Homo sapiens: one gene and its partners. The protein of the gene in region 1 purifies or fractionates together with the protein of each later gene. This does not show direct contact. Each region holds a gene or a part of one and is shown in the gene's direction. Other genes may lie near its edges. The genes, in order: ASXL1, RCC2, RANGAP1, PHGDH, SFXN3, ALB and ATAD3A.

Region 1 (4,185 bases):
CTGTGACCAGTATTAGAAGCAGAAAACACTGAACCCCTTGGCGTTAGAGTTTGGGCTACACCATAATGGTCTCCTATCAATACTGGCTCTCGCTACGTGTTAACATTAGGGAGTGGAGAGTGTGTTTCCTCACCCAGGGAAACCGTTTAAATGTGGCCACTGATCCTGCCTTCATAGTTTTTAAGAGCTGGCATCAATCCAACTCCGGACGGACTCTAGAAATGTTTCTGGACAACGACTGAACCTATAGTTACAGAAAACCTATGTGCTGGGCGCTCTGAATTTCATTTCAGGTTCTAAAACTAAGGCTCAGAGAGGCTAAGTATATTGCCTATTGTTTCTCAGCTGGTAATAACAGCTACCATTTATTAAACATTTGCTCTATGCCAGGCGCCATATCATACGGACCTGATAATGTCAAGATCTCCCTTCACATCCTCTTCCAATCTGTCAAGAATTGTATGTTAATTTTAATTCCAATAATGCCATGAAATACAAGACAAATGCAGATCAGAAAACTGAGGCTCAGAGAGGTTGAGTGGACAGCCAGGGAGTGACTCAGCCAAGATTCCAGTCTAGGTCCGCTGGACTCCAGGGCCTGAATTCTCTCCAGGGTACTGCCTCTAAAAACGCCCTCAGGTGCATTCTGGTCAGTATGGCCCCAGAGTCCAAGTTCTTTACACGACCCGTCAACATATCACCAAGTTCCTAAGAACGCTCTAGGCTGCTGGTGCAGGCTCTGCAAATACACAGCGGCCTGAAAGCACAGGAAGAAATGAAGAACCGTCTAAGTCCATCAGCCGTGGAATAACCGTTTTACTGGTATGAGGGTCTTTTTGTCTCATTATTATGTGGCAGTGAGTCATTTAGAGGTGACCAAAAGGGAAAGTCCTGCCTCTCGTCCCCTACGAGAAGTGTAGGTAAGAACCGTTTAGGCGAGGAGAAGCACGAAGTGGGAACTGCGAGTCGAGCTCCCCATCCTCACTCCCCACCCGCACCCGCCAGGAGGTCCTGAAGCAAAAAGCACCGAAGGGGTTAAGGGTGGCCGGGGGAGCCCAGCCACCGCCCCTTCCCAGCATCGCCTCCCAGAATCCCGCAGGCCCCCAGCCAGTTCTCGCACCTCGCGAGACTCCACCCAGCCCCTTCCCCGAACAGCGACCCGTCCCCGTTCCTAGCTGAGGTCGGTGCTAGGCGGAGGACGCGAGAGGGAGAGCGGAAGGGGGCCGCCGGGCACGCCGGGAAGTGTGGTCCACGCGCTTCACGCGGCCATATTCTTCCGGAGCGGGGGAGGCCAGAGAGGCCGTTGGGACTACGACTCCCAGGCGCCCTTTCGGTTTGTTTTTGTTCAAAAAAAAAAAACCCCACACTCCCCCTCCTCACTCTTCACACACACTCACACACACCCACGGCAGACACGCACGCACCCGGGCGCCGAAGGGAAAGCCGCGTCTCGCCCTCCCGCCCCGCCGTCGGTCCTGTCTCAGTCCCTCAGCAGAGCGGGAAAGCGGAGGCCGGAGCCGTGACCTCTGACCCCGTGGTTATGCGGAGCCGCCGCATTCCTTAGCGATCGCGGGGCAGCCGCCGCTGCCGCCGTGGGCGACTGACGCAGCGCGGGCGCGTGGAGCCGCCGCCGCCCCTCCCCCACCGCCGCTCTCGCGCCAGCCGGTCCCCGCGTGCCCGCCCCTTCTCCCCGGCCGCACCCGAGACCTCGCGCGCCGCCGCTGCCACGCGCCCCCCCCACCGCCGCCGCCGCCCCAGCCCCGCGCCACCGCCCCAGCCCGCCCAGCCCGGAGGTCCCGCGTGGAGCTGCCGCCGCCGCCGGGGAGAAGGATGAAGGACAAACAGAAGAAGAAGAAGGAGCGCACGTGGGCCGAGGCCGCGCGCCTGGTGAGGCGGACAGCCGAGGGGGGCTCCGTGGGGCCCGGGGTGGGGGGGGCTCGCCGCGCACCCCCCCACTGGGGGGGGAGGGGCAAGGCCCTGCCCACCGCGGGAGGGGGCGGGGCCATCTTCCTTTAAGAACGGGACAGCCCCGCAAGGCGAGGGGTGGGGAGCGCTCCGCCGGGATGGGATGTGGCGCCTTTTTCCGCTCGCCCTCGCGCCCCCCCCGCCCCGCGCAGCTAAATTCCGGCGGAGGGGCGAGCTGGCAGGCCGGCTCCTCCCACTCTGGGCAGCGGGGTCCCGCGTCCCCTCCCCCACTATTTGGCAGCGTCTGGGGGTCTGGGGCAGCTTCGTTCATTCACCCGGGGGAGTTGGGTTTCCGGGAAGGGTCGGAAGCTCCTCCCTCGCTTCCTGGTGGGTAATGGGGTGGTGCCTTTGACTCCGGGGGTGGAAAAGCGACCCCACATTCAAGGACGCCAATGGCATGTTGAGCTTTCCCAATCTAAACCAGGTGCGTGGAGGGAAGCAAGTGCTTACTCCCAGCTTGAACCCTGAGCAGCGGTTCTCTAACTTTAGTGTCCTGTGGGCGACACCTGGGAGGCGGTTAGGAACGCTACTCCTAGGGCCCTTCGTAAGACCTGCTGAGCCTCAGGGTCTGGGATAGAGCCTGGGAATCTGCGCTTTCACCAGCTTCCCAGGTGATTCAAACGCAGTGGCTCACGGACCCCACTTTGAGAAACGCAGACTGGGCTGTTTGCCTTCAGAAGCTGGACTGGAAATTGGTATTTTGAGGAGAACTGAATCCACTTTGCAAAGAATGTATGTTGGACAAAGACAAAGTATCTCTGTTGGGAGACGTTGTTCACTGAGGATTTAGCAAGGGAGAGCGTAACTTGAGTGTTTGAAGCCGTCTCGTTCAACCGATGGGGGTTGTGAATTTTGTGTTCAGAGCGTCAGAGGACTTGCAGGTGAAATAGCTTCCTTTTGGATTACTCCCACAAAGCTCAGACACTTTGAGACATATTCGGGTAATTATCTGCTGATACCAGTAGTAACAGGTTATACTAAGATGTCAGTTCCTAAGATCTGTCACACAGCGAGGTTGTGGTGCGGATAGCATAAGTGTCTCTTGACACTGTAGTTTATATGTAATGGTTGTAATTCAGTTTTAATGATGAGTGAAGCTCAGACTTAATTTTCTCTCTTATTTTGAAGTGAGTTTTCTGCTTCAAAGGTGTTGTGCAAAAAAAAAAAAAATAGACTGTATTGGGGGGGTTGACACAAACCTGAAGTACACCTTTTTCTTTCTCGAAGTCTGTAAAAGTTACAGATTTATAAAAACTGAAGGAATTTGGGCTACAGAATTTTCATTGGTGCTTGCTATCCTCTTCCCTAGTCATTTGTTGCCCAGGGAACAAAAATAGCAATTGTTTGTATGCTGAAGTTTTGTGCTTCAGTTTATTTTGGCCTGGCATGTGAAGTTTGAAGATTTTGAGGTTCCGAAATATTTTTTTTCTGATTGAGTCAAAATTGGAAGCTTGGGCTAGTTTTCAGGATCTTGTAGAAATTTCAGGATTTCTCTAACGGTTCTGCACCTGGAAACAAATATAGGCCTGATGGGGAGTGGGAGAGAGCTCTCGTTCTCCTCCTCGACAATGAGTTTTGTGTGTTCATTGACATTCTCCTTGGCGTTCCTGTTATGCGGGTGTTTATGACCCTGGGCACCCAAGGAAATTTGCTTGCCAGAGTTTTACTTGTTAGAGGTAGGTGAAAGTACTTTTAAGTCTTGTGTTATTTATGTCTTGACAGAATTATGAAATCTGTTTGTCTCAAAGTTCTGTTGGCTCTTACTAGTTGACTTTAGGAATTTGGGGTCCACTGTTAAGTCTCTTTAGATTCTCGAATTTACCGTGGTCTGAACTTCAACATCGAGGTTGCTATTTCTGTTTTATCATTGACTCAACTTCAAGCCAGGTTATCAGGGTAAGTTATTCCTCTTTTTCTTCTAAGGCTCTTCATTAAAAATAGTAATATGAATAGGAATTACTTTGTTTGTTTGTTTTTCGTTTGTTTGCCACCACACCCGGCTAATTTTTTATTTTTAGTAAAGATGGGGTTTTTCCATGCTGGTCAGGCTGGTCTCGAACTCGTGACCTTAGGTTATCCGCCCACCTTGGCCTCCCAAAGTGCTGGGATTACAGGCGTGAGCCACCGCGCCCAGCCTATGAGTAGGAATTACTTTGTGGTGCTGTTATACATGTGAAAAAGGATTTGCGAGACTTTGGGAGTCTGAGGTGGAATAATCAC
Region 2 (3,500 bases), on another chromosome or scaffold:
TTTTGCCATCAGAGCAAAAGATCCTTACCCCATGCTGAGATTGACCCAAGGAGGTAGAGACAGGGAGTGTGTGAGGGACACTGGCTCTCCCTGGCCCACCTCTGTCTCCAGCTGTGCTGCTTGAAGCTGCTTTGTCAATGGAAATGGCACATTTGTTAGTCTTTTTTTTTTGAGGCAGAGTCTCCCTCTATGGCCAGGCTGGAGTGCAGTGGCACGATCTCAGCTCACTGCAACCTCCGCCTCTCAGGTTCAAGTGATTTTTGTGTGCTGATCAGCCTCTCGAGCAGCTGGGATTACAAGTGTGTTCCACCACACCCGAATAATTTTTGTACTTTTTGTAGAGGCTGGGTTTTACCATGTTGGCCAGGCTGGTCTCAAACTGCTGGCCTCAAGTGATCTGCCTGCCTCAGCCTCCTTCCAAAGTGCTGGGATGACAGGCGCGAGCCCTGTGTTGGGTTGCATGTTTGTAAGTCTTAATGTGAGTAAACAGCAGTCCATTGCAGCTTTTAAGTTCCTGTTTATACACATAAATACGTTATTATTTTACATATGTGTATAAGCAGGACTCTAAAAGCTACATCTTCCTTTCTCTATCCACTTAAAACCAACAGGGGCCCATGATGCCCATCCTTTGGGCTGTCGGTGCTGTTCTAGAATCAGAGCACCTGGGAGGCTGAGGGTTCAGCATATGATGCCCCTTTATGCCTCATGGAAAGTGCACACCCTACATTTAAGTTTTGCTTTTTTTTTTTTTTTTTTGAGCTGGAGTTTAGCTGTTGTTGCCCAGGTTGGAGTGCAATGTTGCGATCTCAGCTCACTGCAATCTCCGCCTCCCGGGTTCAAGCAATTCTTCTGCCTCAGCCTCCCGAGTAGCTGGGATTATAGACGCCCACCACCACACCTGGCTAATTTTTTGTATTTTTAGTAGAGACGGGGTTTCACCACGTTGGCCAGGCTGGTCTCGAACTCCTGATCTCAGGTGGTCCACCCACCTTGGCCTCCCAAAGTGCCCCACGTTTAAGTTTTGTTAGCATCTACTGAGTTTGGTCCATGTTCGGGGCTGGGTCCATGCAGCCCCATTGCCTTTCCATAGGCCTAGGGCAGCCCTCTGCCCCTTGTCCTGGGTTGGCCTCCTGCCCAGTCTCCCTGGCCCCAGGTTTCTGGTCTCTGTTTCTCTGTTGAGCAGTCCTAGGGACCCTGTGTGCTGCCACAGGCAGACAGCAGTCCTTGTTGCAGAAAGAACCTTTTTTACTGAGCATTTTGCATGCCTTGCCCCGCTCAGGGTTGCTAGGAGGAGGTCTGTGTGAAAGCAGCCGCCCAGGAAATGTCCAAAACCATATTGCCTTCAGTGACCCCAAAGCTGCAGGTGTCGGGCTTGTAGAAGATGAGCCAAATACTTACATTGTTGAGGGGCAGAATTGCCTTGAGTAAAAGATGTGCATTTTATAGAACATTCTTATGGCAGATGAGCGTTGTCATTGCCTAGGTGTTAAGAAAAAATTCAAATTCTTTTTTCCTCCGCTCTCACGGCCACACTCAACAACCAACACCAGACTTCTTCCGCACCCCCCACCCCAGATGGAGTCTTGCTCTGTCTCCCAGGCTGGAGTGCAGTGGTGTGATCTCAGCTCACTGCAGCCTCCACCTCCTGGGTTCAAGCAACTCTCCTGCCTCAGCCTCCTGAGTAGCTGAGATGACAGGCACCTGTCACTGTGCTCGGTAATTTTTGTATTTTCAGTAGAGATGGGGTTTCACCATGTTGGCCAGGCTGTCTTGAACTCCTGACCTCGTGATTTGCCCGCCTCCCAAAGTGCTGCGATTACAGGCGTGAGCCACCACGCCCCGCCTCCCAACACAAGACTTCTGTGACTAGACGTAAAGGGAGGTCTCCCCCTGCTATCAAGCAAGCAATCAGTTCTGCAGCACACACCGGCTGGGTGTCCTCCAGTTCATCTCTTGACACTATCCACCTGGAGGTAGATTTCCTCATCTTGAGGGCTCAGTCCCCAAGACTGTCCTTCCACCCCAGACACCAGTTGCAAGTCCAGTCCCTGGTAGCTTCTGACCAACTAGCCTCTAGTTGGGGTTCTCATGACCCCCTCTTTGGGGTCGATTAATTTATTGGAATGGCTCACAGAACTCAGGGAAACACCAGTTTATTATAAAGGATATTACAAAGGCTATGGATAAAGAGACCTGTAAGGCTAGATGTGGCAGAAGGGGCACTGTGTTTCCGTGCCCTCTGCAGACCACCCACCTGGTACATGTTCAGCTCTCCACAAGCTCTGTGACCTGGTCCTTACAGGTTTTTAACGGAGGCTTCATTATGTAGGCATGGTAGATTAAGCCATTGATCATCACTTTAACCTTCAGTCATCTCCCTCCTGAGGTTGGAGGATGGGGCTGAAAGTCCCTAGGCTCCCACTGCCCCATCCGGAAGCTGCCTGGGGGCTGCCAGTGTCAGTCATTAGCATACAAAAAGACATTGCTTTGGAGATTCCAAGGATTTGGGAAGTTGCATGCCAGGAACTCCAAATATTGATGGCAGTGTCACACTAGGGTAGATTCAGTCCTAATTCTTTGCGCACTTCATAACCTCCTAAAGCAAGTAAAGGCAGCAGCCTTGGCCAGATCCTACAAAACAGGTGAGTGTTGCAAGCTGCCCAGGTCTTTGTAGTTTTTCCAGTCTTGGGTTGCCAAGGTTTTGTGGACCCTGAGACAGATGTGTTGAATCTGAAAGGAGCAAATAAATAAAACTGAAAGCCAACCCGGAAGTCTGTTTCAGTTGATGGCCCTTAGGTAATTGGTCGATGCCGGCATTGTTCCCGGGGGTCTTACCTCCCCGGAGCAGCGGTCTTCTACATGGACCTATGTTAAAAGGTTGACTCTGGGCCCCGTAAACGCGCACCTTGCATTTGGATCATAATTCAAAAATTGCTTTAGACTAGAAATCCCATTTTGTTGATTGAAGAAGCTCAGTGCCTTTTCTGTCCATTTCTGTGTGTCTCTGCCCAGGTTATGTGACCAAGTTGCTGGAGGCAGCCAGGTGAAATGACATGAAAATCACTCATCTCATTGGGCAGACTGTTTGCCAGGCTGTCTGCTGCGTGGCCTTTATACACAAGCAGGGTCGCAGACACTGAGTTCGTCCAAAAAAACAATCCGTAGGCCCATCAGGGAAGGCTGGATTCCGCCTGGGAGGGCACACTGAGCTTCAGACACCCACACACCCACTGGCACCCCCGCCCTGCCCCGCCGCCCCGGGTGGAGCCCGCAAGCGCGGGAGTCTCTCCCACGATTGGCTGTTTCTGGTCTCTGAGGAAGAGGAGCACCCCTTAAGTGAGAAGGGGTGCTGGGAGTTCTCTGTTACTCTATTTAAATGTTAATTCCACATAAGGCAGAGGAAAGAAGTTATAGAGAAATAAAAGAAAGCAGCTTAGAGCAAACAATTATGTAAATAATAACGAAATACACTAACCTCCATCTAATGTGTGAGGAAA
Region 3 (3,500 bases), on another chromosome or scaffold:
ACGAGACTCCGTCTCAAAAAAGGAAAAAAAAAGAAAAAAGAAAAAGAAAATAAGGAGGCAGAGAGAATGGGTATCAAAAGGCCAGGCTGTGATAGGGCTGCATGGGCCAGGGAACACCCTCCTCATCCCTAGAGAAGGACGCCATGTCGAAGGGGTTATGTTGTGTAGGTGGGTGGGCTAGGAGGGCCCCTAAGAAAGAAAGGTCACATGGAGCTATGTCATCCAGAGAAGGGGCATGAGTGCCTGCCCACCACAGCCAGGGTCCCCACTGTGCTGAGGACACCAGACTGAGAACAAGAAATCGACCTGCTGGATCTAGAGCTCTGTGACCCTGGGCAAGTCACTTCGCCTCTTTGATCCCTAGTCTTTTCTCTGGTGGGGATCCTATCCCAGGCAGTAGGCCTCCCTCAGGAGGTTGTGGAAAGAGTTAGATGCAGCCATGCCCCAAAATCCCACAGACAGGCCCCTGCCCTGTGCTGGCGGCAGCCCATTCCTGTGCCTGCTGTGTGGAATTGCTCTCCTGCCTGCTGGATGTCACCTGGCACTCGGGGCCCCCTCCACTCTCTGCCTCCTCTTCACAGGTCATCGGGACCCTGGAGGAGGTCCACATGCCACAGAATGGGATCAACCACCCTGGCATCACTGCCCTGGCCCAGGCTTTCGCTGTCAACCCCCTGCTGCGGGTCATCAACCTGAATGACAACACCTTCACTGAGAAGGGCGCCGTGGCCATGGCCGAGGTGAGGCGAGTGTGGCAGAGCCAGTTGGGCCCCGCCAGATAGAGGCTGGCTGCTGTCTTTCCAGGGAAGCTGGGGCTCCGTTTAGCAGGGACTCCTCTACCCCCTGCCTGCCCCCTGGGTGTGTGCCCCATGGCTCCAGCTCTTTGAACATGTCCTGAACAGGGTTGCAGGTCCCAAGGTAACCCACGCCCTCCTCGGGCAGCTCTGATTCTTCATGCCACCTTCTCCTGAGCCGCCTCTGCAGCCCCCAGCGGCTGCCGCTGGTTTGTTCTCAGGCTGCACAGGAGCAGACTGCTCCCCACATCTGTTTTCCTGGTTGATTTGTTCAGCAGCTGTTGTTTGTTTTGTTATTTATTATCACTTTTTGAGACGGAATCTTACTGTTGCCCAAGCTGGTCTTGAACTTCTGGGATCAAGTGATCCTCCCACCTCAGCCTTCTGAGTAGCTGGGATTACAGGTGCAGGCCACTGTGCCTGGCCCAGCAGCTGTTTTTTGAGTCCCCATTTAGTGCTTGGCTTTGTACCAAGTGCAGGCCACATGGGGTTGAGCCAAAGACCCCGCCTTCAGGGAGACCCTAGCTCAAGGAGGGAAGGAAGCTGCCAGTGGTAACAGTGCTGGGCTCTGAACGCAGTGGCTTCTTGGCTGCCAGGGTCCCGTGGCCCCACAGAAGGCTAGTCCGGCTGCCTGTGTGTTAGCAGAGATGTGTGCAGGTGTTGGGGAACACGCCAGAAGGAAGTTCAAATCAGACTTAGGGCAGGCTTCCTGGAAGAGATCACATTTTGGCTAAGTTGTATAGGGCAAGTGGTCTTTCTCTGGACAGAGGGTGGGGGATGGGTGTTTCAGGCAGAGGGATCAGCTTACGTGTGGAAGACCCGGATGCTCAGCAGGAACCTTGCTTGGTTGGTCTCAGGAAGAGTTCTGGCCGTAACATGGGGAGGGGTGGAGGAGGTTTGGCCAGGGGCCCAGAGGCCAACAAGTAGAAGACGGCAAAGCTGGTGACTTGCAGAGGAGGACAGTGTGTGGTGGCTGGCTTGGGATGTGACCGTGTGGGGCCCCCGGGGCTTGCTGAGGGCTGGGGTGTGGTCTGCACCCTCACTCTGGACCCTTGCTTCCCCCTCACAGACCTTGAAGACCTTGCGGCAGGTGGAGGTGATTAATTTTGGGGACTGCCTGGTGCGCTCCAAGGGTGCAGTTGCCATTGCAGATGCCATCCGCGGCGGCCTGCCCAAGCTAAAGGTGCCAGCCTGGACGCCTGACGTCCTCCCTCTGGGGTCTGTGGGTGGTGGGGCGGCTGGGGGCACAGGGGTCTGGTCTGAAGGCAGGTGGGCCTGTGTCCATATCCCAGCTCCTCCACTTCGGGCCCTGTGATGCTGTGTGAGCCTCCACACCCCTCTGAGCCATGGTTTCTTCATTTCTAAAGCGGGAGGCAGGGAGTGGTGTACATCACTGTCTTGTGATTTAAGTAAACACAGTACGTGACTCATCGTTGGCTGCAGGGCATTATTTTTGTTGTTGGTGTTATTCTTCCTGCCCACTTTGCCCCACCTGGAGGACAGAGCCTGCCATATCCTCACTTGGGGAAACTGAGGCTTAGAGTAGAACCTGGTGTCCTGGCCCGGGTTTCTGCCTGCCTCCAACCCTTCCTCTTATTTTCAGGAGCTGAACTTGTCATTCTGTGAAATCAAGAGGGATGCTGCCCTGGCTGTTGCTGAGGCCATGGCAGACAAAGCTGAGCTGGAGAAGCTGGACCTGAATGGTAGTCGGATGGGGGAGGCCTCTGCACAGGTCTGCTAGGCTGGCCCTGGCACCCCGGCTGACTGCTCTTCCCTCCCCTTGAGCAGGCAACACCCTGGGAGAAGAAGGCTGTGAACAGCTTCAGGAGGTGCTGGAGGGCTTCAACATGGCCAAGGTGCTGGCGTCCCTCAGGTAGGGAACTCGGGGTGGCCCCAGAGGTCGGGGTCAGGCCATTCCTTTCTTTCTTTCTTTTGTTCTTGAGATGGAGTCTTGCTCTGTTCCCCAGGCTAAAGTACAGTGGCGTGATCTCGGCTCACTGCAGCTTCCACCTCCTGGGTTCAAGTGATTCCCCTGCCTCAGCCTCCCAAGTAGCTGGGATTACAGGCACCCACCACCACACCTGGCCCCTTTATTTGTTTCTACTTGTATTTATTCAGAAACGTTGGGTGCACTCCTGTTACGTACTAGGTCATACACTAGGCATCAGGGCTATAAGGATGGGACAGTCAGGGCTTCTGTCTCGTGGGGTGGAGACAGAATGAGTTGTCCGTTCAACAGAGGAGCTCGTACGGGCTGAGCGGGGCCACCCTGTAGAGTGGTGGAGTTGGGGAGGCCTCTGAAGGGGTGAGGCCAGATCTCATCCTGATGTGGTGGGGCCTGGGGAGTGATGGGGGTGGGAGGTGGGGGCAGCCAGAAGGGGCTGCACTCGGGATTGTTCTTAAGACGCTGACTCTAGAAAGGAAGAGACCATGGGGCCTGGGGAGTCTACCTGGAGGTGAAGGTGGGTGGCCGGGGAGTGGCCATCTCCTGGATCCAAGTCCGGTTGGGCCATCAGCATCGGGCTCCCTGTGCCCCTCGCATCTCCAAGTCGGCCTCATTCGTGTGTCAGATACTCAGTCGTGTCTCCTCGGTGCTAGGCCCTGAGCTGAGGCTAGGAACTGGGGACTCCGAGGTGGGCTGAACCTCACAGGTCCCACTGTCCCTGGGAAATGGTCCAGCCTTCCTATGGGGCAAGGACACCCCTA
Region 4 (3,500 bases), on another chromosome or scaffold:
TCCAAGGGATTTTACAGTTTGGTTTTTGCACCTAACTGGCCATGGCCTTGGCTCTGGCCCTATCTTCTTGACATCTTGGCAGGTCTACCAACTCTTCTTCAGTTACAGTCTCAGAGTTAGCCAGTGGCAATGACTTTCCAGTTCTTGGCTGGTTTTTGATCTGTAAGAGTGACCTTGGGCAGGTTACCTCTCAAAGCCTCTGTTTCTTTATCTGGAAACTGGGGATGATTATACCCCTTCTCCTTGGAGTTGTGAAGAGAATAATGTAAAGCAACTGGTGTAATGCCTAGTACCCAGCAGGTGCTCAATAAATGGTTTATGTGCTGGTGAGGCTGGTACTATGGATATATGGTATAGAGTAGATAAAGTTTTAATATAAAATCCCTGCATTAGGCATAGAAAATATAACTAAGGAGACCAAAACTGCAGGTCTAAGAGAGGACAACTAGATATGAAACATATTATATTGGTGATCACAACAAAAATGGTGGGGTGTAGGGAGAGTGACAGTTCAGGGTTGTTGGCAAATGTTTCCTGGAAGATAACTTTATTGCACCTTGAAAAGTCAGTAAAGTGTGTCCAGGCAGGGAAATCCTTTTCTTTGGAGCCTGTGTGGTGGACTTGAATGTGGAAAAGATGCCAGTATCCTGTTTCTGCCTGGCTTGGCTGATATTTAACTAGGCTGCTATGGGGGGAAATCAGAATACCTCCAGGTGCTCACCTGGTGTTGGCCTCAGCACTGGGGCAGTCAGCACTGAGGTGGCTTCTGTTTGATTCCTCTAAGCCCTGGGTGCCCATGTGACTTGTATACACCCAGGTCATAATCAGTTTAGCATAATGCCAGATACGTACATAGCGGGCATCCGATAAAATGAAGGAAGAAAAGTACAGGGGAGGGGAAGGGAAAGTAGGCAGGCTTAACTTTGTTGGGCTTCAGTTTTTCCTCTGTAAAATGGAGTTGGACCAGATGCTGGTGAACATTTCTTCAAATCTCCCACTCTGACGTTCTGCTTCAGAACCTCAGACATAAAAGGATTTGGAGTGTCTTCCAGGCCGCCTGCATGTTTCTCTCTGCTGGTAGGCACAGCCCCCAAGCAGTGAGGATGTGTGATGCATAAACACCTCCAGAGGAATCGTTCTACTATTGCTCTTGAACAATTCTTCCAGTGTTTAGAAGCTCTTAAGGCTTAAATATTCTATGCTGCAGCCTAAGCATCATTCCTCTTCTCTTCTTAGTGGAGATAAAATTACCCACTGCTCTCCTTACATTTACTTTGTCCATATTTGCTCCTATGCTCTAGGCTCGTGCACAACAAACACAGTGTGGGCCCTTACCCTAGAAGCCAACTTCTCATGACCTTTCTCTATCTCCAGAATCCATGCAGTGGGAATGAAGGTAAAAGAAGGTTTTCATGGGATCCAGCTGAGAGCTCTACGGGGAAAATGGATCTGAGGAGCCATGTGCTCCATCTCTTTTATTTTACAGGTAGAGACTAGGGGTATAGAGTGAGGTGAATTACCGCAGTGACCCACACATTGTTGGCAGACCTAGGATTAGAACTCTGTCTTCCTGGTTCCCAGCTTGGTGCTTTTGAAAGCATACTTGCTGCTTTCTTACCGGCCTGGTGTCTGCCACTTTGGGACAGAGTGTGGACTTGCTCACCTGCCCCATTTCTTAGGGATTCTCATTCTGTGTTTGAGCAAGAATATTCTTATTCTGGAAAGAACCACATACCACAGGATTCTGGGTGAGCATAAGGAAGATTGTCTTGGGGATCTGACTTAGCTCACGTATAGTGGCTATGATGAATTCAGTGTCTTATTTTTTGCATATGTATATTTTTAGTCTAATATTGCCTGGGTGTCTGAGCAAGTCTAGATGAATTTAATTGCTCTCATTTTTCCCCTGCCCCTCTTCCTTTGGTCTCTCTTTTAGGAAATGTTTTTCTTTCAACATTCGTTTCATTCATTATTTACTCATTCGGCCAACCAACATTTATTGAGTGCCTTCCCTGTATCAGGGACAGGGGCTTACAAAGTAGAATTTGATCCCACCTCTGCCCTCAGTAGCTCAGTGTCTAATGGAGGTAGTGATGTTCATTAAGCGTCGCCAGATACTGTGCTAGGTGCTGTGCCTGTTCTCTCTCGCTTGTTCCTCACACACTTGAGAAGGCCGAAGCTGATTCATAGCTTGGAAGGCAGGGGCCTTGGATTTGAACCCAGGCCTGACCAATGGCAGAACCTATCAGATGTGTGGACAGATGACATTGCCTTTCTTTCTTTGGATATATCAAAATCAGCCAGCAGGCAGGAACTCCCATTTTGAGCAAGCAATGTGCAGGAATGATAGGGTATACAGAGAGGAACAGGAGATGGCCCCTGACTTCCAGCATGTGTCTGATGGACATCCAGGCTGCAGGCATCATGGTGCTGTCTAGAGAGATGAGCCAGGTGCCCAGAGCCCATGGGCCAATGCTGCCCTTTCTTGAGCATGCCAAACAAAGCGGTTGGTGTGTTAGAGGCACAGTCTCCTCCACTCTAAGTAAAAATCAGCATGAGTCCTAGCCCACATTTCCCTAGTGAGTATACCAAAGATATCTATGAACTGGCAGTCATCAGTGACTTCCTAAGGTTCCGGAAATGCATCTCTTACTCAGGAGTAAGCAATGATGTGCCTGCGGCTTTACGAGTTCTCACAGAATGACTTTCTGGACCCAAATGTTTTTTCTGCTTCAGGACTGTGAAGGCCTTATTGTTCGCTCTGCCACCAAGGTGACCGCTGATGTCATCAACGCAGCTGAGAAACTCCAGGTGGTGGGCAGGGCTGGCACAGGTGTGGACAATGTGGATCTGGAGGCCGCAACAAGGAAGGGCATCTTGGTTATGAAGTAAGTCATGGAGGCTGCGGGCGGTTTGGGGGTAGGGGGGTGAGTGCGGAGACTGACCACACCTAGGGAGAAAAAACTCACTTGAGAGAAAGCTGAGTCCATTGGAAGGGCTTCCAGGAGGATGCCTGGTCTAGGGCCTGCATGGTCAACACACACAGCATAGTGGTTTCAAGGTTTTTGGAAGGCAGCTATGCTCACCACTATATCACCAATGCCATCAGGGTGTTACACAGTTTTTGAAATTGAGAGTCCCTGCATAATCTCAAAATGTTTCACGAGCCCACCCCATGCGCAGTTGCTTGCACCTCTGTGACCTGGTTCAGGAATCGGAAGGTCAGTGAGTTCATCTGCATTTCCTGCTCCCACCCAGCCCCCTCTGCCTCTATTAATGCTGTTTGTGGCAGGTTTTTGTCAGCTCTACTTTACTGTGCTTGTACAGAGGCACAACCTTTGCTAGCAGACTAATGACTAGAATCCTTGCCCTCCCCACTTCCCTGCCACCTTCTGGAACTAAGACACTAGTTTCTCTTTCAGTGCTCTAGGGCAAGAGGAGAAGGGTCCCATTTAAAGCTGTTTCTGCAGAAACACAGGGGCAGAGGTCATCAGCACGCC
Region 5 (4,107 bases), on another chromosome or scaffold:
CTGAGTTCCCATTGTCCCCTACCCCCACCCTCCCCAACCCAGGCCAGTGGCTGGGTCCCGCCCCTACCTTCGATGGGGGAGTTGATGAGGATGACGCGTCCCATGGGCGATGAGGCTCGGATTCCGCGGGGGGGCCCGTTCAGCAGCCGTTGTTGCTTCCTTAGCAGGTATCGCGTTGCGGTGGAGCCTGAGTCGCTGCCTAGGTGGCCTCGGGAGGAGAGGGAGCTCAGAGAGCCGGAGCTCAGGTCTCCTAGGCCCAGTGGGTCGAAGCCCACTGCGAAACCCTGCGCCATGGCGGCTGGGCTAGGGCGGCACCCTACAGGTCCAGAAGGAATCTGCTAGCTCTGGAGAGGCCAGCCCTGCGTGCTTCGAGCTCCATGAGCCTCTGTGCGGGGCTGGGGTCTCAGTAACGTGAAGGCCCTCGCTTGCGATGCCTCTCAGAAGTGTGAGCTCCAGGCCTGGGCAGGGAGAGCAGGGATGAGGGAGGGGTGTAAATGTTTCCCCTGCTGCCCCCTAAAACTTCCACCCCTCCCCCTGGTTTAAGCATCCTGCCCTCCCATGCCTTAGGCCCCCCTCCTGTCTCACCCTAGGCCAGAGAACTGCCCCGTCCAGGCACCATCTTGGACTCTCGCTGACTTTATACAAGGCAGGTGGGAACCTTTCACCCCTCATTCCTGCTCGGGGCTGAGTCATCTACTCCCGTCCCCAGTCCTCAGTAGAGGTTGAGAGTGGAGTTGGGATTACTGCGGGCCCTGGGGCTTAGAGAGGTGTGAGACAAAAGAGAGGTCAGGACAGCTCATGGCATCACCTCTCTCATGCATATGCGGGCATGGAGGTGGCCCGGGGTGGGGCGGGGGCTGCGTGGGGCGGGCTGGGCCTCGAGGATAGGGCTTCAGGACCTTAGACAGCTGAGGCCCAGGAAGACCCCCAGACACCCGCGGGCTCCAGGCTGCGGCTCCGGGTCTAAAGAGGCTGCATGAACCTCTCCCAAGCTTTGGGGAGGATCTGCTGGAGAGGGGTCCCACGACATCCCGCGCAAAACCCAGGGCCAGTTCCCTCAGAGAAGCTCTGGGACCTAGAATGAAGCACCCCAACATCAACTCGGCCCTCCAGGCCCCCCACCCCTTTGTGCCTGGTCGGCCTCACCTGGTCGCTGGTGTGGCGCCGCCAGCCTTGTCAAACCACCCGCAGGCGAGAGCTACTGCCGCAGCCGGCAAACCCCACCCACGCTGCGCGGAGGCTGCGGGAATTGGGCTGGCCTGCACCGCCCCGGGCTCCCATTGGCTGGTAGGGCCGCCAGTCATTCTATTCCGGCACCTCCCTTAGGCGCCAGGGACAGCCGAGCGTTACCTGGTCCCGGGCAGCGGAGTTCTTTACCCACCCCAGTTCTGGTTCTGACGCCCTAGCTCATTCCGCAAATTTAGGGCTTGGGTCTGGCTTGTTCCCCTCCGGCTCGAACCACCTCTTCTCTGAGCCGAGCCAGCTACCGGGGCTCCTGGAATTGCCACCCCTCCCTGGGCACCCTTGAGGCCTCCGTGGAGGGACGTCACGGGGCAGAGCGGGACGTGAGCCTGAGTTTGCTGCAGGCGTGCTCTGTGTGGTGGCTGGGTGAGTTGTGAGTATGTGCGTGGCGGAGGGGGTGCCTTCTTCACTTGCATCCTCCTCCTCTGTCAGAAGGCGTCTCTGGCTACCCAGTTCTGGAATGGTCGCAGGGTGGGGCAGCTGGTCCCAGGACCGGAAGAATCCTAAGAATCCTTCTGATGCACTTGCTCGGATGCAGACCGCGAGGTTCCTGGGGTCGTCTGCCCCTCCACATCTCAGGGGTGGGGCTACGGTCTGGGGTGCAGGGCTAGGGGTTGGGAGCGTAAGGAGACCAGGGACACAGTGGAGCTAGGGGTTACAGAGGGGGAGCAGGGAGAGGGCTGGGGACATAGAAGAGGCACAGGCACGACAGGAACGGGGCTGTGAAGTGATGCGAATGCCGCGCTGCTACAAGAGGAGCTTGTGGATACTGGGGTAGGAGCCCAGGGGGACAAGCAAGCCAAAGGCCATTGCCAAGGCAGCCATCAAGTAAACAAGCCAGGCGGTAACCCGAGTCCCTCCCGGCGCGCCAGCAGAGGACCGCCCCTCCACACCGCCCACCTGCGCCCGGGGCTTTCTCTCTGGGCACCTAGACCGCTTGCTGCAGGGCTGGGGGTCTGCTGAGGCCCGCCAGGGGACTGTAAACCAAGGGAGCAGCGCCCGCGGCTCCAGCCCCTCCTCCCTTTGGCTGGGGAGGGGGCCAGAACTGATCCCCGAGGTGGGATTGGCTCTGGGAAGCAGCTTAGGGCCTGGTCCAGGTGGCCCAGGCTGGGGGCATCGCCTCGAATGACACCCACCGCCCTCAGGTTCTGCCAATCCCCGTGCCCACCGGGTGGGCGCGGCCGGGAAGCTCCTGCCCCTCCCTGCTGGTCGGCGTCACGCGTGACGTCCCGCGTGATGGCTGGGAGGGCCCGGCGGCGACAGCGGAGGCAGAGAGGAAGGCGGTTCTGAGAGCTTCAGAGAGCGATGGAAAGCGTAAGTGCTCGCTCTCCCCGGCGGGCGGGGTTCTGGAATGGGGGTCAGAGAAGGAGGCCTGCCTTGAAACTGTCTGTCCTGGTGCAGTCAATGTCCTCGGCTCTGTGGAGGTCCAAGTCCACAGGGCACAAGGGAGGTTGGGGGGAGGAATGTCAGGGTGGGGCTGTGTGTAGTCACACATTCAAGTGTCTGCAGATGGGCACAGTGTGCGCCTGTAAAGGTGTTTGAAGGCCGGTGTATACAGGACACCTCCACTCTGTCTGTATGTCTGGGCAGGGTGTGCATGATAGTGTCTTTGTGTGTGGGTATGTGAGTGTGAGGGGAGGGCGTCTCTGCCTCTGCGGGAGGAAGTGTGGCTGGAGAGGATTAGTCATTCTGTAGGATTCTGCCCAACTCAGCCAGATGGCTGCACCAGGCTTTCCTCTCTGTGCTGGGTGGAGGGAGCAGCCACTGAATCCTGCTCTTATCCGGAGGCAAGTGGCCCAGAGAGAGGTGGATGAGTGTCTGTGCCAGCCCTGCCTGGCCAGGGACCAGGGAGAGCCTGGGGTCATTCAGTGTGAGTTGGAGAAAAATGGGTCTGTAGAGAGGACTTGTGCGTGCCCACATGCACACACATGGCTGACATCAGAGTCCCCTGATTGAGATCTGGAACAGATAAGCCCTGGGTGGCCAGTAAGGCCTTGCTCTCCTCCAATCAGGGACTGGAGTGTGGGATGTCTTGTGCCATTTTCCAAAACAGCCTTGGGGGTTTGTATCCAGGTCTCAGTGCAGCTGGGGCCTAAAGCTCACCTGAGCATGGGTGTGTAATATATATATTATATATTCTTGTGCATCTGTAGCACACGTGGCTGGGATGTTTGTTGCTGCTTATGTGTCAACCACATATATGTAAATCCTCACTCATGAAAATCTGTACCAGGATAGAGCACAAGGAGATCTGTTTTCCTGTTTCTGGTCTTCCCTTCCCCCTCCTCCAGTGGCTGCAGGTCCCTGGGCTGGGACATTGCCCAGGAAACAGCTCCTCCCCACACCCTTGCTTACCTACCTAGTTGAAGGGGTGGCCTGCCCCTCCACACCTGTGGGTATTTCTAGTAGGGTGGGACAAGAGACTGAGAAAAGAAATAAGACACAGAGACAAAGTATAGAGAAACAACAGTGGGCCCAGGGGACCGGCGTTCAGCATACCAAGGATCTGCACCGGCACCGGTCTCTGAGTTCCCTCAGTTTTTATTGATTATTATTTTCATTATTTCAGCAAAAAGGAATGTAGTAGTAGAGCAGGTTGATAATAAGGAGAAGGTCAGCAAAAAACATGTGAGCAAAAGAATCTATGTCATAATTAGGTTCAAGGGAAGGTACTATGCCTAGATGTGCATGTAAGCCAGATTTATGTTTCTCTCCACCCAAACATCTCAGCGGAGTAAAGAATAACAAGGCAGCATTACTGCAAACATATCTCACCTCCCACCATAGGGCGGTTTTTCTCCTATCTCAGAATTGAACAAATGTGCAATCGCGTTTTATATGGAGACATTCAGTTCCCAGGGGCAA
Region 6 (3,500 bases), on another chromosome or scaffold:
ATGTGTGTGTGCATGCACGTGTGTGTATGTGTGATATTGGCAGTCAAGGCCCCGAGGATGATAATTTTTTTTTTTTTTTTGAGACGGAGTCTCGCTTTGTTGTCCAGGCTGGAGTGCAGTGGTGCCATCTCGGCTCACTGCAACCTCCGCCTCCCAGGTTCAAGCCATTCTCCTGCCTCAGCCTCCCAAGTAGCTGGGACTACAGGTGCATGCCACCATGCCTGGCTAATTTTTTGTATTTTTAGTAGAAAATTTTCAGCTTCACCTCTTTTGAATTTCTGCTCTCCTGCCTGTTCTTTAGCTATCCGTGGTCCTGAACCAGTTATGTGTGTTGCATGAGAAAACGCCAGTAAGTGACAGAGTCACCAAATGCTGCACAGAATCCTTGGTGAACAGGCGACCATGCTTTTCAGCTCTGGAAGTCGATGAAACATACGTTCCCAAAGAGTTTAATGCTGAAACATTCACCTTCCATGCAGATATATGCACACTTTCTGAGAAGGAGAGACAAATCAAGAAACAAACGTGAGGAGTATTTCATTACTGCATGTGTTTGTAGTCTTGATAGCAAGAACTGTCAATTCAAGCTAGCAACTTTTTCCTGAAGTAGTGATTATATTTCTTAGAGGAAAGTATTGGAGTGTTGCCCTTATTATGCTGATAAGAGTACCCAGAATAAAATGAATAACTTTTTAAAGACAAAATCCTCTGTTATAATATTGCTAAAATTATTCAGAGTAATATTGTGGATTAAAGCCACAATAGAATAACATGTTAGGCCATATTCAGTAGAAAAAGATGAACAATTAACTGATAAATTTGTGCACATGGCAAATTAGTTAATGGGAACCATAGGAGAATTTATTTCTAGATGTAAATAATTATTTTAAGTTTGCCCTATGGTGGCCCCACACATGAGACAAACCCCCAAGATGTGACTTTTGAGAATGAGACTTGGATAAAAAACATGTAGAAATGCAAGCCCTGAAGCTCAACTCCCTATTGCTATCACAGGGGTTATAATTGCATAAAATTTAGCTATAGAAAGTTGCTGTCATCTCTTGTGGGCTGTAATCATCGTCTAGGCTTAAGAGTAATATTGCAAAACCTGTCATGCCCACACAAATCTCTCCCTGGCATTGTTGTCTTTGCAGATGTCAGTGAAAGAGAACCAGCAGCTCCCATGAGTTTGGATAGCCTTATTTTCTATAGCCTCCCCACTATTAGCTTTGAAGGGAGCAAAGTTTAAGAACCAAATATAAAGTTTCTCATCTTTATAGATGAGAAAAATTTTAAATAAAGTCCAAGATAATTAAATTTTTAAGGATCATTTTTAGCTCTTTAATAGCAATAAAACTCAATATGACATAATATGGCACTTCCAAAATCTGAATAATATATAATTGCAATGACATACTTCTTTTCAGAGATTTACTGAAAAGAAATTTGTTGACACTACATAACGTGATGAGTGGTTTATACTGATTGTTTCAGTTGGTCTTCCCACCAACTCCATGAAAGTGGATTTTATTATCCTCATCATGCAGATGAGAATATTGAGACTTATAGCGGTATGCCTGAGCCCCAAAGTACTCAGAGTTGCCTGGCTCCAAGATTTATAATCTTAAATGATGGGACTACCATCCTTACTCTCTCCATTTTTCTATACGTGAGTAATGTTTTTTCTGTTTTTTTTTTTTCTTTTTCCATTCAAACTCAGTGCACTTGTTGAGCTCGTGAAACACAAGCCCAAGGCAACAAAAGAGCAACTGAAAGCTGTTATGGATGATTTCGCAGCTTTTGTAGAGAAGTGCTGCAAGGCTGACGATAAGGAGACCTGCTTTGCCGAGGAGGTACTACAGTTCTCTTCATTTTAATATGTCCAGTATTCATTTTTGCATGTTTGGTTAGGCTAGGGCTTAGGGATTTATATATCAAAGGAGGCTTTGTACATGTGGGACAGGGATCTTATTTTACAAACAATTGTCTTACAAAATGAATAAAACAGCACTTTGTTTTTATCTCCTGCTCTATTGTGCCATACTGTTAAATGTTTATAATGCCTGTTCTGTTTCCAAATTTGTGATGCTTATGAATATTAATAGGAATATTTGTAAGGCCTGAAATATTTTGATCATGAAATCAAAACATTAATTTATTTAAACATTTACTTGAAATGTGGTGGTTTGTGATTTAGTTGATTTTATAGGCTAGTGGGAGAATTTACATTCAAATGTCTAAATCACTTAAAATTGCCCTTTATGGCCTGACAGTAACTTTTTTTTATTCATTTGGGGACAACTATGTCCGTGAGCTTCCGTCCAGAGATTATAGTAGTAAATTGTAATTAAAGGATATGATGCACGTGAAATCACTTTGCAATCATCAATAGCTTCATAAATGTTAATTTTGTATCCTAATAGTAATGCTAATATTTTCCTAACATCTGTCATGTCTTTGTGTTCAGGGTAAAAAACTTGTTGCTGCAAGTCAAGCTGCCTTAGGCTTATAACATCACATTTAAAAGCATCTCAGGTAACTATATTTTGAATTTTTTAAAAAAGTAACTATAATAGTTATTATTAAAATAGCAAAGATTGACCATTTCCAAGAGCCATATAGACCAGCACCGACCACTATTCTAAACTATTTATGTATGTAAATATTAGCTTTTAAAATTCTCAAAATAGTTGCTGAGTTGGGAACCACTATTATTTCTATTTTGTAGATGAGAAAATGAAGATAAACATCAAAGCATAGATTAAGTAATTTTCCAAAGGGTCAAAATTCAAAATTGAAACCAAAGTTTCAGTGTTGCCCATTGTCCTGTTCTGACTTATATGATGCGGTACACAGAGCCATCCAAGTAAGTGATGGCTCAGCAGTGGAATACTCTGGGAATTAGGCTGAACCACATGAAAGAGTGCTTTATAGGGCAAAAACAGTTGAATATCAGTGATTTCACATGGTTCAACCTAATAGTTCAACTCATCCTTTCCATTGGAGAATATGATGGATCTACCTTCTGTGAACTTTATAGTGAAGAATCTGCTATTACATTTCCAATTTGTCAACATGCTGAGCTTTAATAGGACTTATCTTCTTATGACAACATTTATTGGTGTGTCCCCTTGCCTAGCCCAACAGAAGAATTCAGCAGCCGTAAGTCTAGGACAGGCTTAAATTGTTTTCACTGGTGTAAATTGCAGAAAGATGATCTAAGTAATTTGGCATTTATTTTAATAGGTTTGAAAAACACATGCCATTTTACAAATAAGACTTATATTTGTCCTTTTGTTTTTCAGCCTACCATGAGAATAAGAGAAAGAAAATGAAGATCAAAAGCTTATTCATCTGTTTTTCTTTTTCGTTGGTGTAAAGCCAACACCCTGTCTAAAAAACATAAATTTCTTTAATCATTTTGCCTCTTTTCTCTGTGCTTCAATTAATAAAAAATGGAAAGAATCTAATAGAGTGGTACAGCACTGTTATTTTTCAAA
Region 7 (3,500 bases), on another chromosome or scaffold:
CGGGTACACACACACACACACACACACACCCAAACGGGTGCACAACCCACCCACACATGGGCACAATCACCCCCACACACATGGGCACAGTCACCCGCCTGCACATTCGGGCACCGTCACCCCCCGCAAACGGGCACCGTCACACCCCGCAAACGGGCACACTCACCCCCCTGCACACTCGGGCACAGTCATCCCCCGCACACATGGGCACAGTCACAGGTTTTAAAGGCTTTTCTCTTTTTCTGCGGCTTCTTCTCAGCAACTTCTCAATGAGGAGAATTTACGGAAGCAGGAGGAGTCCGTGCAGAAGCAGGAAGCCATGCGGCGAGGTAGGCTGTCTGCTCTCCTGGCTGGGGCGGAGGTGGCGGGGGCTGCTTGTGGACCCGGCGTGCACTCTGAGCCTGAGTTCTGCCGCCCGGCCCCTCATAGCTACCAGTGCAGTGGGCGAGGCCTGCTGGGGCTCCGCGGGGTGGGGCTGCCTCTCGGAAGACACCTCTGTCTGCGAGTGGACGCCAGGATCTGTTCAGGGAGGGCAGGAGCTGCTTCACTTCATGGGAAGTACAGGGGCCTTTTTTTTTTTTTTGAGACGGAGTCTCGCTCTGTCACCCAGGCAGGAGTGCAATAGCACGATCTCAGCTCACTGCAACCTCTGCCTCCCAGGTTTAAGCAATTCTCCTGCCTCAGCCTCCCGAGTAGCTGGGATTATAGGCTCCCGCCACCACGCCCAGCTAATTTTTTTGTATCTTCAGTAGAGAAAGGGTTTCACTGTGTTGGCCAGGCTGGTCTTGAACTTCTTGATCTCATTATCCGCCTGCCTTGGCCTTCCACAGTGCTGGGATTACAGGCGTGAGCCTCTGCGTTCTGCCTAGAACATGGGTCTTTACTGTCCTGGTTTCAGTGGGGATCACAGGTATTTGGTGCCATGTGGCATTTGTTGGCGAGTGCTCCAGGCAAACGTCTGTCACCACTCTTCACCGTGGGTGGGCTTGTGGCGAGGTGTGTGCGTTTAATGTTCAGTAGCCAGGCACGTGGCACGTCACGCGTGTCTGAGTTCTGACAGCTGTGTTTCTGTGTGAGGGGGGCTTCCTTCAGAACTCCGCGTTCTGGTTTTTTGCTTCAAAGAGCTCGTCCTGAGAAGTTGCCTAGGCCTCTGGGTCGGATTTCTGCCCTAATCCATGGGCAGGGCCGGCCTGTGGCGCTGTCCCTACCAAGGTCTGTGTGTGTCTGTGGCATGGACCTGTCCGTGGCCTTAGCCTATTGGCGGCGTGGGCCTGTCTGTGGCGTGGGCCTGTCCGTGGCCTTAGCCTGTCAGCAGTGTGGGCCTGTCCATGGCGTGGGCCGGTCCGTGGCATGGGCCTGTCTGTGGCGTTGGTCTGTCCGTGGCGTGGGCCGGTCCGTGGCGTGGGCCGGTCCACAGTGTGGGTGGAGGTGGACGCGCTGCACTGCATGGTGCTGAGCTGCCCTGCCTCTCTGGGGCAGCCACCGTGGAGCGGGAGATGGAGCTGCGGCACAAGAATGAGATGCTGCGAGTGGAGGCCGAGGCCCGGGCGCGCGCCAAGGCCGAGCGGGAGAATGCAGACATCATCCGCGAGCAGATCCGCCTGAAGGCGGCCGAGCACCGTCAGACCGTCTTGGAGTCCATCAGGTGAGCACTGCCGAGGCCCGGGCCGGCCACAGATGGAGCCCCGCAGGTGTGAGTCGCTGGTCCCAGGGCGCTCTCCAGCTCTTCCAGGCCTTGCCGCCGTAGGCTGACTCCTTGGTGGGGGCACTGCCCCTCTGTCCTGGCAAGGCCGTGCCGCCATGTCAGGGCCTCACCCTCAACCTGCTCTCGCTGCGTGGCACGGATCTTCGTGTCCTTCCTGGTCACACCACTGCTTTCCCCGCAGGACGGCTGGCACCTTGTTTGGGGAAGGATTCCGTGCCTTTGTGACAGACTGGGACAAAGTGACAGCCACGGTAAACATACTCATAAAACAGGGCTGGCAGGTGGCTGAGGGGCAGCATGTGGGGGCCTCCTGGAGCCCCAGGTCCTGTCCCTGCCGGCTCTGCACAGCCCTGTAGCTCTCCCAGCAGGGAGGAAGCCCACGTTGTACCTGCTGGCCTCGGCTTCTCCTCCCTTCTCAAGCTGGGAGAAGAAAACGCAGTTGCCAGCCTGGGCCACACAGTGAGACCCCATCTCTACAAAAAATCAAATATTAGCTGGGTGTGGTGGCAGCCCCTGTGGTCCCACTACTCAAGAGGCTGAGGTAGGAGGATCACTTAAGCCCAGGGAGGTTGCAGCTGCACTGAGCTGAGATCGCAGCACTGCACTCCATCCTGGGCGACAAAGTCCTTGTCTCAAGAAAAAAATTGTCGATAGTCGTGGCTCACACCTGTAATCCCAGCACTTTGGGAGGCAGAGGCAGAGGCGGGCGGATCACGATATCGGGATCGAGACCATCCTGGCTAACACGGTGAAACCCCGTCTCTACTAAAAAAATACAAAAAATTAGCCGGGCGCAGTGGCGGGCGCCTATAGTCCCAGCTACTCAAGAGGCTGAGGCAGGAGAATCACCTGAACCCGGGAGGCGGAGCTTGCAGTGAGTCGAGATCACGCTACTGCACTCCAGCCTGGGCCACATAGTGAGGCTTCTTCTCAAAAAAAAAAAAAAAAAAAAAAAAAAAAAAACCAGAAGGCAACCCTGACTCCATTTTGCAAAAACCTTCTTTATTCCTTATAAAACCCTGAGAGTTTGAAGTTCACAGATTCTTCTCTCGTTTAAAGCCTCACTCTTTTGTGCCCAGCCTCCGGCCTGCTGTGGTGGCGCCCCACGTCCCACATGGCTGTGTCCTCCGTCCCCACCCCGCCCAGCACACGGTAGGTGCCCGGCACTGAGTGGGCACTTGCTCTGCCGTGGTGCCGGCGCCCAGAGCTGTGACTGCAGCGCCTGCCGGTGGCCTGGTCAGTGTGACGGTGAATGTTGCAGGTGGTGTTGCCACCATGTTGGTGAGACCGTGTCACGTGAGGACATGACGGAGCTGCTTAATGCGCCGATGACTTTTGTTTGTTTGTTTTTAGAGACAGGGTCTTGCTCTGTGGTCAGACTGGAGTGCAATGGTGCCATCTCGGCTCACTGCAACCTCCACCTCCCCAGTTCAAGCAGTTCTCCTGCCTCAGCCTCCCAAGTGACTGGGATTACAGGCTCACGTCACCACACTCAGCTAATATAGGCCTGTGCCACCAGGCCCGGCCAATTTTTGTATTTTTAGTAGAGATGGGTTTTCACCATGTTGGCCAGGCTGGTCACGAACTTCTGACCTTAAGTGATCCAGCCGTCTTGGCCTCCCAAAGTGCTGGGATTACACGGGTGAGCCACCGGGCCTGGCCTAATTCATTTTTTGTTTGTTTGTTTTTTGAGACAGAGTTTTGCTCTTGTTGCATAGGCTGGAGTGTAGTGGCGCGGGTCCAGCTCATTGCAACCTTTGCCTTCCGGGTTCAAGAGATTCTCCTGCCTCAGCCT

The links.
Region 2: the proteins of ASXL1 (region 1) and RCC2 purify together in Homo sapiens (affinity purification with mass spectrometry, with the first as the bait; one study listed by BioGRID). This does not show direct contact.
Region 3: the proteins of ASXL1 (region 1) and RANGAP1 purify together in Homo sapiens (affinity purification with mass spectrometry, with the first as the bait; one study listed by BioGRID). This does not show direct contact.
Region 4: the proteins of ASXL1 (region 1) and PHGDH purify together in Homo sapiens (affinity purification with mass spectrometry, with the first as the bait; 2 studies listed by BioGRID). This does not show direct contact.
Region 5: the proteins of ASXL1 (region 1) and SFXN3 purify together in Homo sapiens (affinity purification with mass spectrometry, with the first as the bait; one large-scale study listed by BioGRID). This does not show direct contact.
Region 6: the proteins of ASXL1 (region 1) and ALB purify together in Homo sapiens (affinity purification with mass spectrometry, with the first as the bait; one study listed by BioGRID). This does not show direct contact.
Region 7: the proteins of ASXL1 (region 1) and ATAD3A purify together in Homo sapiens (affinity purification with mass spectrometry, with the first as the bait; 2 studies listed by BioGRID). This does not show direct contact.

What each region holds. Positions count from the first base shown.
Region 1 is NC_000020.11:32,356,946-32,361,130, forward strand, and holds the start of ASXL1 (polycomb group protein ASXL1), read left to right. Parts: upstream 1-1,385; 5' UTR 1,386-1,830; coding exon 1,831-1,887; intron 1,888-2,040; exon of another isoform or gene 2,041-2,068; coding exon of another isoform or gene 2,069-2,292; exon of another isoform or gene 2,293-2,362; coding exon of another isoform or gene 2,363-2,389; exon of another isoform or gene 2,390-2,906; intron 2,907-3,764; coding exon of another isoform or gene 3,765-3,861; intron 3,862-4,185.
Region 2 is NC_000001.11:17,433,178-17,436,677, reverse strand, and holds part of RCC2 (protein RCC2), read left to right. Parts: intron 1-3,500. UniProt on the Homo sapiens protein: Multifunctional protein that may affect its functions by regulating the activity of small GTPases, such as RAC1 and RALA. Required for normal progress through the cell cycle, both during interphase and during mitosis.
Region 3 is NC_000022.11:41,255,188-41,258,687, reverse strand, and holds part of RANGAP1 (ran GTPase-activating protein 1), read left to right. Parts: intron 1-581; coding exon 582-740; intron 741-1,863; coding exon 1,864-1,977; intron 1,978-2,397; coding exon 2,398-2,497; intron 2,498-2,582; coding exon 2,583-2,667; intron 2,668-3,500. UniProt on the Homo sapiens protein: GTPase activator for RAN. Converts cytoplasmic GTP-bound RAN to GDP-bound RAN, which is essential for RAN-mediated nuclear import and export. Mediates dissociation of cargo from nuclear export complexes containing XPO1, RAN and RANBP2 after nuclear export.
Region 4 is NC_000001.11:119,718,434-119,721,933, forward strand, and holds part of PHGDH (D-3-phosphoglycerate dehydrogenase), read left to right. Parts: intron 1-1,444; exon of another isoform or gene 1,445-1,459; coding exon of another isoform or gene 1,460-1,486; intron 1,487-2,736; coding exon 2,737-2,888; intron 2,889-3,500. UniProt on the Homo sapiens protein: Catalyzes the reversible oxidation of 3-phospho-D-glycerate to 3-phosphonooxypyruvate, the first step of the phosphorylated L-serine biosynthesis pathway.
Region 5 is NC_000010.11:101,029,927-101,034,033, forward strand, and holds the start of SFXN3 (sideroflexin-3), read left to right. Parts: upstream 1-1,307; 5' UTR 1,308-1,608; exon of another isoform or gene 1,609-2,016; intron 2,017-2,387; 5' UTR 2,388-2,547; coding exon of another isoform or gene 2,548-2,556; intron 2,557-4,107. Other genes in the region: PDZD7 (PDZ domain-containing protein 7), read right to left, coding at 68-293. UniProt on the Homo sapiens protein: Mitochondrial serine transporter that mediates transport of serine into mitochondria, an important step of the one-carbon metabolism pathway.
Region 6 is NC_000004.12:73,417,787-73,421,286, forward strand, and holds part of ALB (albumin preproprotein), read left to right. Parts: intron 1-301; coding exon 302-525; intron 526-1,720; coding exon 1,721-1,853; intron 1,854-2,467; coding exon 2,468-2,512; 3' UTR 2,513-2,535; intron 2,536-3,305; 3' UTR 3,306-3,500. UniProt on the Homo sapiens protein: Binds water, Ca(2+), Na(+), K(+), fatty acids, hormones, bilirubin and drugs. Its main function is the regulation of the colloidal osmotic pressure of blood. Major zinc transporter in plasma, typically binds about 80% of all plasma zinc.
Region 7 is NC_000001.11:1,518,662-1,522,161, forward strand, and holds part of ATAD3A (ATPase family AAA domain-containing protein 3A), read left to right. Parts: intron 1-259; coding exon 260-329; intron 330-1,479; coding exon 1,480-1,645; intron 1,646-1,886; coding exon 1,887-1,956; intron 1,957-3,500. UniProt on the Homo sapiens protein: Essential for mitochondrial network organization, mitochondrial metabolism and cell growth at organism and cellular level. May play an important role in mitochondrial protein synthesis. May also participate in mitochondrial DNA replication.